2 separate regions of the Homo sapiens genome follow, and region 1 is linked to region 2. Evidence: fine-mapped expression QTL. Tissue or cell type: sun-exposed skin. Region 2 holds a variant in brackets; the other region holds the start of a gene. All regions are shown on one strand. Distances are between the middles of the regions.

What was found. PIP is the estimated chance that this variant, and not a neighbour inherited with it, causes the effect.
Region 1: it holds the start of SLC1A3, and the variant in region 2 is fine-mapped to the expression of SLC1A3 in sun-exposed skin (GTEx, PIP 0.99). The same link has a PIP of 0.9 or more in esophagus mucosa.

Annotation. Positions count from the first base shown.
Region 1 is chr5:36,602,282-36,610,375 of GRCh38, reverse strand. SLC1A3 (solute carrier family 1 member 3) reads right to left here and starts at 3,770. Exons shown (of 10, transcript NM_004172.5): 1 at 3,641-3,770; 2 at 1,772-2,047. The coding sequence starts at 1,952. RefSeq lists an enhancer at 3,564-3,663.
Region 2 is chr5:36,449,005-36,457,112 of GRCh38, reverse strand. No RefSeq gene overlaps it. Among named protein-coding and RNA genes, the nearest start is that of RANBP3L, 150 kb to the right of the region's middle. The variant G/C (reference allele first, on the strand shown) is at 4,390.

The sequences.
Region 1 (8,094 bases), 150 kb before region 2:
GAAGTGGCTTAATGGTCTATAGGAGAACTGTAAGTTTTCTTTTGAGGTAACCGGGTAAATCATGCAGTTAAATGACAATGCTGTGTGAATGCACTGCTAGCTAACTGGCCTTCATCAACTCATGAGGGTATTTCTCTTCCTGGCATCTCTTAAAAGATGTCAACTAGCAGCAGAGCAGAGGAAGAATAGAGTGGTTAAGAGAATGGCCTCCGGTGCTAGACTGAATTTGACTTCCAGCTCTAGAGTTTACTAGTGTTGTCACTTTGGGCAAATTGCTTGATCTCTCCACAGTCAGTTTCATCTACAAAATGAGGAAGATCATAGTAATCATACCTTCTCACTCGCTTCATAGGCTTGTTTGAGGATTAAGTGAGCTAATATAAACAAAACTCCTACAGAGTAGCTGGAATAGTACTATATAAATGTTTGCAATTATTATTATGCAGCTATTGCTTGGCTTGGCAATGACTTTGATTCAGAGTGACAAATGAGGCAAGCAGACTGTATTTTGCATTGACTTCCAGGACAATGATGTGGGACTGAAATATTTCACCCAGGAATATATTCAAGCCTGGAAACCTACTGTGGAAAGCCATTACTTCTCTGGGTCAGTTAGGACATGTTCTCTTTGAATATCTCTAAATTAATTGAACCATCATTAATCACCAGTGATTACTAATGGAAGACAATGATGTTAAAATGGGATGTATCTAAAATCTTGTGACAAACTCTCCTGCTATACTTCATTTGTCTACAATTTAAGAATTCAATTTTCTTGAAAAAAGTTATATTTACACACTACAGAATTTTCTTAATCTTTATTAAATCATTACCTCTTTAAAGTTGATGGAAATCTTGGCAAACTCCAAAGTAGAGATTAAAACGGTACTGAATGCCTCTTTTTTGGTGGCAAATTGGTAGGTTAAGTTGGAATATTTTTACAACCTGGCATTGGCGTATATGTTTGTCAATCTAAGGATTTCTGTATTGGTTTGGTCAAAAATTCCAAATAAGTAGGTTTTTTCAGCTATATTTTAAAGTAGGATCAATGCCACCCATAAGTAATAAACTATAACTTTTAAGATCAATAAACAAAACAAAACAATAATATTTTATTAGTACAGATTGCTGTCAACCCTGCTAAATTAGTAAGAGATGGAAATGATTCAAAAAAAGGTATAGCTGGTTATGGCAGGCTCTGCAAAGCAATGAATGAAAGAGATCTGTGTTAACATTTTCCCCAATCTACCTTTCCCAGTTGCTGGGTGAGAGAGTGCAAACACATAAAATATTCGGTCTCTGTGCCTAAGCGTTGATACTCAGCTTCAAGTCAGCACCAGTTAGAATATAATTACTATTTGGAACCAACATGTCATTTTAGGTGTACTAATTGTATAAATTAGTTTTAAGTGCAACTGACATTGTATATAATTACATTTTGGCCAAATCTAGCATGCTTGCTTTGTCATGCCTAATGATTAAATGATCACTTCCTTATCCTTACATGAAATGGGAAAATATTTTATTTATTTTTCTTCCTCACACAATTGATTTGCATAATGCCTAATGATGCCTAATGATGTGTTTACTATATATTGCTCCAAACAAGCCAAAACAGTCATTTTTATGGAGAAAAATCATCAAGTTCAGAGGAAAGCCTAGGCTACCATTTTGATACCTACAACTAGTTCATCTGATAATATTCCCCGGGCAGCCAGATGCCCCAGAGAAACAAGATACAGGTTTTTTTGTTTTTAATCAAATGACTCACCCACAATGACAGCGGTGACTGTGAGCAGCACAAAAGCATTCCGAAACAGGTAACTTTTAACATCCTCCTTTGTAATGTTCTGCACTTTCTTCTTGGCCAAAAGTGTGCGTTTACGGACTCCCTGCTGGAATCTCTCCATCCTGCCCCCCATCTTGGGCTCTTCTCCATTGCTTTTAGTCATATTTTACTTTTCTAGGAGGGTCTCTTCTTTGCACTTCAGTGTCTGGGAATCACCCACAGAAAGCCAAACCTCCTCTTTGGTATTAGAAAACACAACTAGAATGGGAGAAAAAGAGACATGAGTTATAGCCTCCAGGGGTGAGAAATCAGTGCTGCTCCACACCAGGCAAGCTCTTGGCAAATTGCATAATCTCAGCAGGAATCAAGGACTGGAGAGCCACAATACCAGACCTCAAGGTTGCAGTGTGCATATTTTAGTGGACCACGTGTGAGAAATGTGCATAAATTCGGAATATATTCTATTTTCTTTTTAAAAATCCGTCCTTCCCCTTCCAATGAGGCTATAAAAGGGTTCTTCAGAGCTAGATCTGACTGAGAACCCCTATTCCCACCCTCCCCCGCAGAACCCAGCTGATGCCTTGCACAACGTACACAATCAGTAAATGTCCAATTGAACTGAATGCACAGAAAGTATTCAATCATTACTTGACAAATTATGCTGTATACATGGTTGAAAGCATAACCAGGTCAATAAAAATAATTAAGATACTGATAGGTGGGAGTTGTCTCTGTTACATGCAGTAAAGTAACCAGCTATTTTCTTCATTAAGAAAAAAATATAATAATATCTACTAGTAAATATGGTCATAAAAAGAACACAAGTGCCCACAGTACATGGGAAATACATGTGACTATTTTACAGGGTAATTTTTTCATTTTTTTTCCATGAAATAAGCAAAGTGCTCTGGGCACATCTATAAATCATCTGAAATCACAATTCAGCTTCGTTTATCACAAGTAGAAGTATGAAGTAGTGTTTTTCTTTGTGACACACATGCTGGAATCTTCCGAGGAAACTATCGCTGACTTTTTAGCGTTTTAAAATTTAGGATTTCTAGAACAGATGAGATGAAACCAATTTTCATTCCAAACATTACAGCTTGTGGTTTCTGGTTTCTTTAAAGCACTCACGCTATTTAACTACATTTCAGTAAATCTCTTTCCTGGTGGAAATCAGCTGTTCTGAAAAATCAAGGGATTCCTCCTGGTGCTTTACAGGAGCTCTAATCCATAGCCCTTCCCATAATCAATCCGAGTGAAAACCAGCCGTACCATGGATGTGTGTCGCTGCCAACGCAAGCAGCCAGCGTGTGCGCCTGTGGGGGAGGTAACTGGAAACCAAAGGACTCCTCGCAAATGACTTCTCGCAATCCCAGTGCAGGAAAAAAAAAGACTTGTCTTAACAGTTTGCCTTTTAAATAAAATTGCAAGTTGGGGTCAGTGATACTAAGACTTCTAATTTGTTTAAGACTTCACACTGGATTAAATGCTTAGGGAGAAGTGAAGACCGGGAAATAGGAGAGACCAGATTTTTTTTTTTTTTAAACTAATAGCTCTGATTCCTCTTACCAGTCACTTTTAAGCAGATCCGCTCAACCTTGATCCTTTTCTAGATCTCGCGCCACAATCTGCCCCCAATCCACCCCGAATGACTCAACTCCGAATTAACAGCGGACCCGGCATAAACAGACACCACACTCTCACGACGTGAGATGACTAACAAGGACTTTATCTACCAAAATGGCTAGCCTTGATTCAGGCTACTCCTCTGCTTGGAAGGCAAAATACATCGGCAGAGAAGTGAAAGGAGAAATTAAACCCAGCAGGAACACAGAATGTGACACTTACCTTTTCTGATTTTGTAAGGGGTGGAAGATATCAAGCAGTAACGAGGTGAATTCCCCAGCAGGTACAACGGAGCAACAATCCGCAGCGCGCGTAAGCAGGCAGGCTAGCCCTGACAGTGTGCATGTGCTCTGAAACTGCAAGTTACTATCAGGGCAACTTAAGAAAAGGGGAGGAGTCTGTGCCCGGGAAAGGAGGAGTGGGGAATGGAAACCGCACAGGGAGGAGGGGGAAACCCCGAGGTTTCTGGAATATTGATTAATCTTGGCACACCAGAAGCAGGCTTGCTGGCTTTGTTTTGCTCCTTAGACCACTTTCACGCTTTGTCAGTTCACTGTCATTAGAAATGCAAAACCGGGACTAGGAAGAATTGAAAAATAAAGCGCACACAATCGGAAAGCTGAAAGTCTTGATTAGAACGTTTCAAAGACTTTTCTAAGGCTAAATTTAATTACCTCACATTATTGCATGTTTCCTCCCTTTCAGGGAAGACGAGGGTGTGCTCTTTAGCCTGGTTGTACAACTGTTACGAGAAAGTTCCTTTTTCGAATCGGGGAATTAACTGACGTTTCTTGGGAAGACACTGAATGCAGACAAGTATGTAGAAAAAAAATAATGCTTACTACGATTCTCTAAATTTGTCTAAAGTTAGGGACATGCCTCTATTTCAGCAGTTGAAACTTCAAAACTTCATTTTAACAAACCTAATTTAGCTCACACTGCCTGTGTTGCAAAGACGGAAAAGGTAGCAAATGTAAAGAGACTGGAATTTTTGCCAAACTAGAAAATGAAAAGCATTTTAAGACCAAGAGTGCAAAGTACACTTGAGATTTGGTGATTCAAAAGATAGGTTGCTGTTCAGATGTCTCCATTTTAAAGGATGCTAAATGTTCTCCCTACCACACACAACTTTTTTAGAGCTAAAAAATTCTCATTGCCTTGAGAAGGTAACTTGAGCTTCTAGTCCACTTTTCTTAAAAGAAAAATAAATTGTGAAAATAGATATTAGAAAATAAAAAAAAATTTTTTTGAGGTGACTTATTCCCAAAACTTAAATCTTCTTTAGAAGGAAGAAAATGGTTCATTAGAAACAAAAATTTATACCAGAATCACAGCCTGAGGTTTGGATTCTTGTTCACTGAATTTAATATTCCCCATGCAAAATATGCTCAATTCTTGGTCTATTATTCAACAAGAAAGTATGTCTTTTTTCCCCTCAATACAAATCTCTGGAGATCATAAAGAAATATCTCCTTTCACCCTCAACTGTATGTCCTTTTAAACAGCTACTGGTTGGAAAGCAATGGTGAATCATGTCAATGCTTTAAAATTACAAATCAGCAGCAATTATAACAGCTTTCTAACATGCTATCATTTTAAGAACTTACTGAAAGTACATGCTTTTGACATTCCCAGCCCTCAGTGACCCTTCCCTTCCTCTGATCTCCTAGGTCACTGAGCATCTATACTACATTGTTTAGCACTTAATTATACCATGTTTTGTACTGCATCCTTCTTTTTAAGCTCATGTTAAGTTTTGGTTTCTCAACTAAATTATAAGTTCTTTGAGGGCAAGAACTTGTCTTATACCTAATACAGAGTCAATATTAAGTAACTCTTTTTAAGTGGGTGGAATAATATTAGGATGTGAAACAAAACGCTTTTCAATCTTTTGTGTTAAAACACAATTACTAGTTTTTACATTGGTGCCTCTGGTTTAGGTGCATGGAGCCATTTCTCAATGCCATGACTACTTTTAAAAGCATTTATTTACTATACCAGGTCCTATCTGAGCCATGAGTTTAGGATTAATTTGCACACCCCCCCCCCCCACCGCTTTTTTTTTTTGGTGGAAATGACTTTGACTTGTATTGCAAGGGAACTCGAAAGAGAAATCTGATTTTAAATGGGGTTTCAAGCCCAGTGGCATTTCCATTTTTTGTTTTTATTTTTGTTAATAGGCAAGAAAAAGGGCTGGAAAACCACACTTTGGTTAGCATAGAGATGGGAAGACCCTGGTGCCCTTTCTTTTTCACTTTTTTTTTCCTCTCTAATCCCTAAAGCTTGGTTAAAAACCATTTCATTATTTCAGTTTGTGTAGACATTATGGGAGTCTGGTATTCTGTTGAGAAGGGAAGTAATTCACCACTGAAAGTTTTGTTGGCTGTAATAAAACCTAATGAGAAAATGAGATGCAAAGAGTCTCAGTTCAGAGTTCATCCAATTTTAGTCTGGAGGGAAACATTGGGAATTACTTCTTTAAGCACCACTTTCTCTTTCTGGAAAGCTATAGCAAAAGTCATGCCTGGGGGCCTCCTGGGTTTCCTCAACGCGTATTTCTACCTTTTCCCCTCTACTTTATAGTTAAGTCCCTTGAGCTTTAAAACATCTTTTTTTTTCCTTCTAGAAACACTAAATAAATGAAAGATCAAGAAATTATGAACAAGTCTCTGTATGCTGTATTTCATTTAAAGCTACTCAGGGTGGGAGACACAGAAGCTGGGGGATCATATTAATGTTAGTATTATCAAATGAAAAAAACACAAACACCAGCAGCAAATGCTGTTCCTGCTGAAAAAATCTGTCAAGATCTTTCTGTGAACATTGTGTGATGAAGTATGTTATCAGTAAATTCTTTCTTTGGGAAAAAATGTCAGTATAACAAGAAATAACCAAATCCAACCTGTCCTTAAAGGGAGCATTTATTGGTTTGAAGAACAAGAGATTACGGTAATAAGCACGTGCTGATCTTAGCATGGTACAGGCCAGTCAAACTTCACCATTCAAAATTAGGAAATTTTGGTTAATTGGATTTTTTTTTGAGCAACAAAATGGATTAGAAAACCTTTTAATCTTTTTTCAATATTTTCCAAGTTGATTTTTAATTTAATGATGGTTTTAAAATCATTCCTTGTTTAAATAGCTTGCATTTTAGGATCATCATGAATGTCAATTCTCCTCCTAGAATTTGGAAATTGTAGAATGCTAAGACAATGAACAGGACCTGACTTAACCCCAGAGTGTAACAGTGGATGTGTTAGAGGCAGTAGGTGTAGAAGAACTTGTGGTAGTTGTCTTCCATTTTGTTTTGATTTTTTTTTCTTCTTAAATATGAATGTAAAAAGCAGAACAACAAAAAAACCTGTGGTGAAGTCTGGTTAGTTGAATTTTTAAATAACTAGGTTTTATTTTAAAGTTATAGTCATATGAAACCTAAAAACATCCAACTACAGAGAGGTGAACTAAAATTAACTTTATCACATTCATTTATTCTTTCAACAAACATTGAGCAACCACTGTGTTCCAAATACCAGTTTCTTTCCTCAAGGAGTCCATAAACGCATCGTAATTATTAAGCAGTGGGCCAGGACAGGGCCCAACAGAAGGTTATGAGATCGCTGTGTGCTGAGGCCTATTTACCAGTTAGTATGTCAAAAAGACTGGTAGCAACTTAAGAGAAGGGGCTGTGCCTGGATCCACATTGTGTACACTGTTTCTAGCAGGTGCCTGCCCATAGCAGCCATCGTGTGGCATGGCAGGGAGCCAGTAGTGGTTCCTGCTGGAGAACAGGCCAGTAGGGGCCGAATTTACAACTTGAACTCCACTCCTAGTCAATGGGGAGCCAGCCACAGGATTTAAGCAGGGAAGTAATTTTCGTTTTAGGTAAAATGCAAAGCCTTGAAGTGACTAAGACTTGGGTTAGGAAGTCAAGGGGCAGGAGGAGCATTTACAAACTAGGTGAGTTCACATTCACACTGAAAAATACTGACCATTTGAGAATATCAAGGCCCTTGAAGGGGTCGGCTGACACTGAGCCAAGGCTGCCTCCTGTAGGTGGAGTGTGCACTCTCCAGCCCACTTGTCCTGCTCACTTCACTCAAGTTAGTTATCAGCATGTGGCTCTAGCAAGTTCTTCTGTTTTGACCTCTGATGGGGTTTCAGAAGAGGACTGAGCAAGGGCAGAAGCCTAGGGAACACCAACACAAAGGTGAAGACCAGCAAGAGGAACCCCCCCAAATAGATTCCCACGTGGCAAGAAATTACACCAACTGTTATTTTTCTCACAAGTGATCCAACAGGTGGACATAATGATGCCTTAAAAAACAACATGTTTTCTCCATTCTAAAGCTAAAGAGGGTCTGCTTTTTAATGAAGGCTTCACACATGTTATTGTTATCAATTATTATTTATATTGAAAAGTGACATTTTCCCCAGTTGCTCAACATGAGTCAAGACTTTGTAGAACCAAGAATATCCGTTTAGCTGGAAAAGATTATGTAGGTTGATTGGAATTGAAGCCTTCAGCAGACATGTTTACAGGGCTTTATAGTTTTTTAAGTACTTCTACACACATTATCTAATTTAATCTTCGTGATAATACTTTGAGGTCTATTCTACTCTATTATTACTGGTCCTGTAGACCCAGATGTTGGAGATCAGTAGGGATTGAGTAATAT
Region 2 (8,108 bases):
CTCCTGAGTAGCCGGGACTACAGGCACCCGCCATCATGCCCAGCTAATTTTTGTATTTTTGTAGAGATGGGGTTTCACCATGTTGGCCAGGCTGGTCTTGAACTCCTGACCTCAGGTGATCTGCCTGCCTCGGCCTCCCAAAGTGTTGGGATTACAGGCATGAGCCACCATGACCGGCCTCTCATTTCTAAAATACCTATTTCATGTCCTTGTTCTAACTGGCTCCTCCCTCAAGACACTGCTCCCCTGCAGCCCTCTATACAGGTCACTGGTTTTTCAGCCACGTGCCTGGCGCCACAGGGCCTGGAATAGGATGAGTGTCTTCCTTGCATCTCAGTGCTGCTCCCAAGCCATTGTCCCATATCCTCCATAAAAACACCCAGTTTCAACATGGGACTATGTTGTCTGCCACCTTCCTTCCTTTTGGCAACCATCTGCTGGCTCTAACATCACTTCCCTTCCCTCCTGGATCACCGTCATTTTTCTATCACTACACCCATTGTATTTTTGGTGATTTCAATATCCACACAAATAAGTCTTCCCATACACTGAGCTTTCAGTTTCTCAGCCTCCCCTCCTCCAACATCTCATCCTCCATTCTACCTCAGTCACTCACTCCTATGTTCATGCCTCCTGGGCCCTGTTTTTATCAGTAATCTTACCCACTCCAGAATCTCAACTTCAAGAATCCCAATATTTGACCACCATTTCTTATATTATTTGTTTTATTTACATCTACTTGTTTTCCTTTACCACATCATTTCCTTATCCCCTCTGCATGAAGAATTACTATCCCAAATTTTATGCTTTTAATTCTCTTGATTTTTAAAATGAATTTATCATATATGTATGTATTCCTAGGCAGTAGAGTGCTTAGTTATTTTGAACATCATAAAAATGATATTGCATGTAGTCTGTTGTAGTGCGTATTGTCTACTATATGCATGTGGTCTATTGTAACTTGCATGTTTTACGTATCATTATGTATGATACGTAAAAACCATACACACATTACGTATACTATATATTGTATTCATGCATACCATACATACAACATCTCCATGCTGTTGTGCATAGCTGAAGTTTGTTTTTACTGCTGTATAACATTCTATGGTGTGAATTTACCAAAATATATTCACTCATTTTTTTTTTCTGTGTACCATTTCCACATTTTTGGTATCATTAACTCTTCTTCTGTAAGTAACTTGTACTTGTCTCTGGTGCATATTTGCAAAAGTTTTTCTAGAAGCACAGTTAATGAACCAAAGAGCATAAGCATGTTCAATTTTGCACAATGATGTTACATTATTTTCTAAAATAATTGTACATCATTTTTCATTATTCCAGGTCACTTCCACTAAATTCTGATTTTTTTTTTTTTTTTTTTTTTTTGAGATGGACTTTCACTCTTGTTGCCCAGGCTGGAGTGCAATGGCACGATCTTGGCTCACCGCAACCTCCGCCTCCCGGGTTCAAGTGATTCTCCTGCCTCAGCCTCCCGAGTAGCTGGGATTACAGGCATGTGCCACCACACCCGGCTAATTTTTTTGTATTTTTAGTAGAGACGGGGTTTCACCATGTTAGCCAGGATGGTCTTGATCTCCTGACCTCGTGATCCACCCGCCTTGGCCTCCCAAAGTGCTGGGATTACAGGCGTGAGCCACCGCGCCCGGCTAAATTCTGATTTTTAAAAGCCTAGCCAAGTCTAGGACCTATAATGATTGATTGCACTGTCTTTTTACACTCTTCATTTTCAGTGTACCAAGGCTATATTCCATGGTATGTCATAATATTTATTCTTTTGCATACACCTTCAATTTCCTTGCCTCTTCTTCCTTTATCGTGCTCACCTGGCAAAACGCTAGTTCCAGCGACAGCCAAATCTCTGCTGGCTCTGTGCCTGCACTCACGCAGGGGAATATGGCTGCAGGTAACTACGCAGCTATGCTGACTGTTCTCACATTACATTTATGGCCACAAGTATCATTAGCCTCTAAGATACTTGTCAATCAGACTATACTTTCCTGGTCCATTAACTCTCCCATGCATCTATTTGGTATCTTCTTATTTCTCCTTAACCTCTATTACATCTTGCTGCACCTTCACTGTCAGCTGATGACCTTGTCACTGAGAAAATGAAAGCAATCAGAAAAGAACTACCATTGGCTTTGTTATAAATAAAGTTTCGGTGCTGCAAAAGAAATAGCACTTGAATATAAAATTTTCTTTTTAATTCTCAGCAAGGCAAGTTACTTCTATAGAAGGGTGCGCCCTTACAGATGGAGCAATGGTGAGTGCACACTTGGACAAGGGAGGGGAAGGGGTTCTTATCCCTGACGCACATGGCCCCTGCTGCTGTGTCGTTCCCCTATTGGCTAGGGTTAGACCGCACAGGCTAAACTAATTCCGATTAGCTAATTTAAAGAGAGTGATGGGGTGAGTGATTTGGGGGGATAAATGGTTATGACAGAGCAGGTAATGAGTCAGGGTTGAGCAGGTAATCAGAATGCGTCAGGGTGGAGCAGATAATTGAAAAAGGTTGCTTTATAAGGAAGTTAAGTTTAAAAGTAGAAGGCAAAGTATTGAACATACTGACATATTGATTTTTTGAAAAGAAATTTAGACCCCATATCTAACAGCTTCCACTTCTATATGGACTTCTCTACCTTCATCTGTGCCCATTGTGTTTTCTATTGCTGTGTAACAAATTATCCCAAAACTTAGTGGCTTAAAACAACACCAATTATTATCTCATAGTTTCTGTGTGTCAGGATCCAAGGCACAGCTTAGCTGGGTCCTCTGATTCTGCATCTCCTGGTATCTTTCTTTTGCAGCTGAGTGCCAGTATGCTTTGACCATTAAATAGGCAAGTTACGCCCTGGCCATTAAGGAAGGACTTACTACTAAAATGGACTGGATGGGAAAAGACACACATCTTCTCATCTTCCTATAGAATACACACTGGGTAAAAGAAATATAGTACTTTTAATAAATTATAAAACTCTTTGAAGTTAAACTATTTTTTCTTAAATTGTCTTTGCAGTATTGGGAAAATCTAAAAGACATCTGGAAAAAAGAAAATGGAATTCTTGCCTCAAGTAAGGCCAAAATTATTTGAAGATGGATCAATGATTTAACTAGAAAAAAAGAAAGTATAAAATTCCAGAAAAAAAAATTTTTCTAAATTATCTCACAATAAGAAAATTTTTCTTCCAAGTAGGACAAAAAACCTAGGAGTCATATAAAAAGGATTGATAAATTTGATTGTATAATAATAAAAATATCTACATGGTGAGAAAAAAATAAACAAAATGAAATGAGAAATTAAAACCAGGATAATATTTTCAATGCATATCAAAAACAAAGGGCATACACATAATTCTAAAAGAAGTGACAAATCAGTAAGTCAAAGATCATTAAACTAATAGCAAAACAGACAATTGAGAAGATGCTCAAATTCATGTATAATTAGGGAAATGAAAATTACAACTACAGTGAATATACTTACTTTGTGTTAGATATAATTTGCAGAAGGATAGCAGAAGTGCAAGAAATGACATAAGTACAAGGATATTCACTGGAGAGCCTGGCACAAAGTGAGTACGGGTAAGTATTGGCTAAATAGATGCTGTTTGTAATAGCAAGATTAGAAACAAACTCCATGATCTCCATGTTCCCAAAGAGGATACTGACAACACATGGTACAGTTCAAAGAATGAGGCACTGAAAGTACTGATATAGAATGATTTCCAAGGTTGAAAATTGAAAAAAGCCAGCCTGGACAACATGGTGAAACCCTGTCTCTACTAAAAATACAAAAATTAGCCGGGCATGGTGGCGCACATCTGTAATCCCAGGTATTCTGGAGGCTTAGGCACAAGACTCACTTGAACCCGGGAGGCAGAGCTTGCAGTGAGCCGAGATTGCGCCACTGCACTCAAGCCTGGGCAAGACTGTCTCAAAAAAAAAAAAAAAAAAAAAAGAAAGAGAAAAATAAATTGAAATTGAAAAAAGCAAGATGCAGAAACATATGTATAGCATGCATATTAATTACATAATAGAAAAGATATAGGCATACTTGTAAATGCATGGTCTATCTCTGGAAATATTCACTAGAAATAAGGAGGACTGCCTCCAGGGAGAACTAAGTGGCTGAATGACCGTGAAGGAATGTAGAATACTTTTCATTGCATACACAGCCCCGCTTTTGTCTTTCATGTGCATCTGTTATTTAAATGAATGAAAACACTTAAAAGTCAAATAGTTATCATTTTAAAAGAACTGAAGAAAAATAGTCTATAAGCAACAGCGTAGGAAAATATAGTATTGCTGAATGAGTTGCTACTTAATTTATGTGTTTAAGAGGACAGGGAGGAGTGGTTTTATATG[G/C]AAAAACACAGACATTGCCTAGGGTTATACAGGATGGAAGCCAGATATTCTGAATCCACCTCTTGCTTTTGACTTGGCTGCTGGAGCCTGAGGCAAGTGAATTAAGCCAGTCAAATCTGGATAATAGTACTTAATGATCAAGCTCTCCACTACATTGTGAAAATCAATTACTTGATGTTGGTAAAACGCTTTGAAGGTGTCATGCTCCAAGGTGCAAGACAGAGCCTGTTCAGACCTGTATGCTGTCATGGGAACTGAGGCTCTGGAGTCAAGACTTTGAGGAAACTTCCAATCACTGTTCAGTGAAACCAATGTTTTTAAAGTGCCAGTGCTCCCAAATGTGTCTTCCATGTGCGTGCCCAGAGAATCAGCCTATTTTATGTGTTTTTTTTTTCATTCCTGTCTTACTTTTCTACACAGTGCCAAAGGTCCATTAAGGAAATTGTAATCCAATGATTTCCAAAAAATGAGTTATTTTCAAAGAAGAGAAGCAAGGGTTAAGACCAGGCTGTGCAATTCAGTAAGAAAATTACAAACCCTTCCAGAAATTACAGCGAGTTAGGGATTAATGTCGGCTTTTGAACAATACGTATTAAATTAGTCTGTAGAAATACAACATTCTCAGAGAAATGCACAGTCTAAGAAAAGCAGACCTGTGGAAATGAGAATGTTAGTAGATAATTCTCCATCAGTCTCTCACATTTCTGTACATCTTGCAAGGAATGCGCTGATTATCCTCTTTCCTGGATTATCTTTTCAAATACATTTTTATAGTTAACAGCCTTAGAAAATAGAGTTAGTGTCTTTCTCCAGAGCAAATAGTAGGTTTGCTTACTGCACTTCATAAAAGATTTGAGTTCTCTACATTCAAAGTTTTTCTCCTGTAATGCAATACGCTACATGTATAGGTGTCATCTGGCCCTGTGGAAATTGGGGCTTGGTGAGGTGGTACAAATATGCTGATACTCTGGCTACCGCTATTGCTGTCAGTTATAAACTATCCTTTGTCTTTGACACAGGAGTCTGGTGTCTTCTACCGGCATCCATGAAACTGTAGATGGGTGACTTCTTAGCTTGCAAGTGGGATAAAATCTCAAACTCTTCACAGTTCTTAAGAAATAATTGTTCTCTAGACGACTGCTATGTGAAAGAAATACAATGCAGGCCACTCATGTGAACCAAAACATAATTTTAAACTTTACAGTAGCCACATTAAAAAGCTAAAAGAGGCTGGGTGCGGTGGCTCACGCCTGTAATACGAGCACTTTGGGAGGCCAAGGCGGGTGGATCACCTGAGGTCAGGAGTTACAGACCAGCCTGGTCAACATGGCAAAACCCCATCTCTACTAAAAATACAAAAATTAGCCAGATGTGGTGGCACACACCTATAATCCCAGCTACTTGGAAGGCTGAGGCAGGAGAATCTGGGAGGTGGAGGTTGCAGTGAGCCAAGATTGCACCACTGCACTCCAGCCTGGGCAACAGAGTGAGACTCCGTCTCAAAAAAGAAAACTAAAAGAAACAGGTAAAATTAACTATAATAATATATTTTGTTTAACACGATACATCAAAAATATTGCCATGTAACCCATATGAAATTATTAATGAGCAATTTTACTTCCTTGCCTAGCATGAAGTCTTCAATATCTGGGGCATTTTTTATACTTACAGCTCATCTCCACTGGGACTAGCCACATGTCCAGTGCTCAAAAACCATGAATGGCCAGTGGCTTCCATTAAGAACAGTGCAGCTCGAGTTTACAACATACAGTAAAATGAAAACAAAAGTTTGAAGGCCTAAAATAGGTTTTCCTTAAAAAAAAAAAAATCAAAGCCAGAATGTCAATGATATTGTTCACTGGGCCCATTGCTCCTGAGACTCTGAGGCATGTTCTGCATGTTCCAAAGTTTAAGCCTGACAGACTTGTCAGGACATTCTTCATCCATTACTTAATCCTCCTGTGCCCTTTAAGGTACATTCAGGATTGTTGTTTCTTTTGCAGCTGACTGTAATAAGATAGGAATGTAGGATAAGAGTCATTAAAGACAAATTTAATACCAATCTATCAAGCCAGAGATTGAAATTTAAATGTACCTTATTTCCCTTCCAGTTTTCTCCTTTGAGAGGTTTATCTACCCAGACAATGCGTGGGAGTGGGGGCTGGATAATCCTAACCTTAGCTCAAATTATATTAATGTTTGAATAGGAAATTGGGTATTCACCCAATTTTGACAAAGGAAAAATTTCAGTCTCAGAAAGCTTAGTCTCAGCTTGCTCATCTAACCTGCCTTGTTCACAGGATGACCACGTGATCATATGAGTGAGTAGCAGTGATGGGCATTGACAAGGGAAGACAGCACTTGACATCTAAGGTGCCATGATGCTGAATATAATGATCTGTCCTTACTAGAATTTTTTCTAAACAGCATTCTTCAGGACTCAGAATCTTGCATGGATTTGATTATGGTAAAATAAACAGCTGCCAAAACTTTTCATCATTTGGGCTGAGGAGATGTCAGCCCAAATAATGCCAGCGTTTAAAAATAAGAAATATGAGTTTATAGGAATCACATGCATTGCTCCTCACATGCTTATATCCTCCAAAGATGGCAAAATGGTAGAAGTTAAAGGAATTTTTTTTAATCCTCAAATCTCACAAAAATCCAATGTTTGGAAAAGACTTGGATAAAAATATTGCAATATTATAAGATTAAGTTCTAAAATATATACGACAGAATCCTTTTTGAGACAAAATTCACATAGGGAAGAGACGCTTCAGTTTCTTAAATAAATAAGCAAATCAATCAGTCAATCAATCTCTTTTTAAGGGTCCCATAACATTGGTAGTGGTTGAGTTAAATAATGATATAAAATGGCCAGGTGTGGTCAGGCACCTTGGAGAATAAATATCACCCTTTAGATCCTGGGCCCCAGACACTGCAGGGCCTCCCCATGGGTAGGTGGAAGAAGGAATCCTGAGTCCCAATCTGAGCACTTGGGAGGATTCACCTCCACGTATGTCTTCTACCTACCCATGATCTATCATTACCCACGTCATCCTGTCCCATTCATGAAGCCAGCATTTGGCCTAAGACCCTCACAGAGGTCCTGCCTCTCCCTCATACTTCTACTCAAGAATTATTATCAAGTCCCCTATGTCACATTTTGTGCCCTTCTTTTTTATCCAGTACCCTGACCAGCCATCGCTTGCCTCAAGTTTCTTACCATGTCTTCTACTGCCCTGTGTCCCAGTAGCACCAGTTTGTGTTTCACGCGTGGGCTTTGGCCAAATATGTCCCGTGTTCTGGACCACTCATCTTAGCACCTGGCCTCTTCCAGACTCAGCTTGCCCTACTTACAATTTGCCTTTAGTTACTGTGTGTCTGGGTAAGAGGCACCTCATCCTGAATCACCATCTAGTTGGGTATTATGGTAGGTAGCTATTGACTTTGCTGGTAGTCATTTGTTCCTAGTATGAGACAATGTTTCTCCCTCTCTTCTCCTCTCCTTTTCCTCCATCCAAATGACAGTGAGATCGAGTAAAAAGTCTATGGAATTTGGAGTTAACAAAAATGGTGTTGAATTGTAAAATGCCACCTTGGCAATTATCTCTAAGCTTGGTTTTTCACCTATAAATTGGGGATGATAACAATTAGTGCTCAGATACAGGTTTTTTTATGAGAATAAAAACATGTGAGGACAAGTGTGCAAGAGCCAG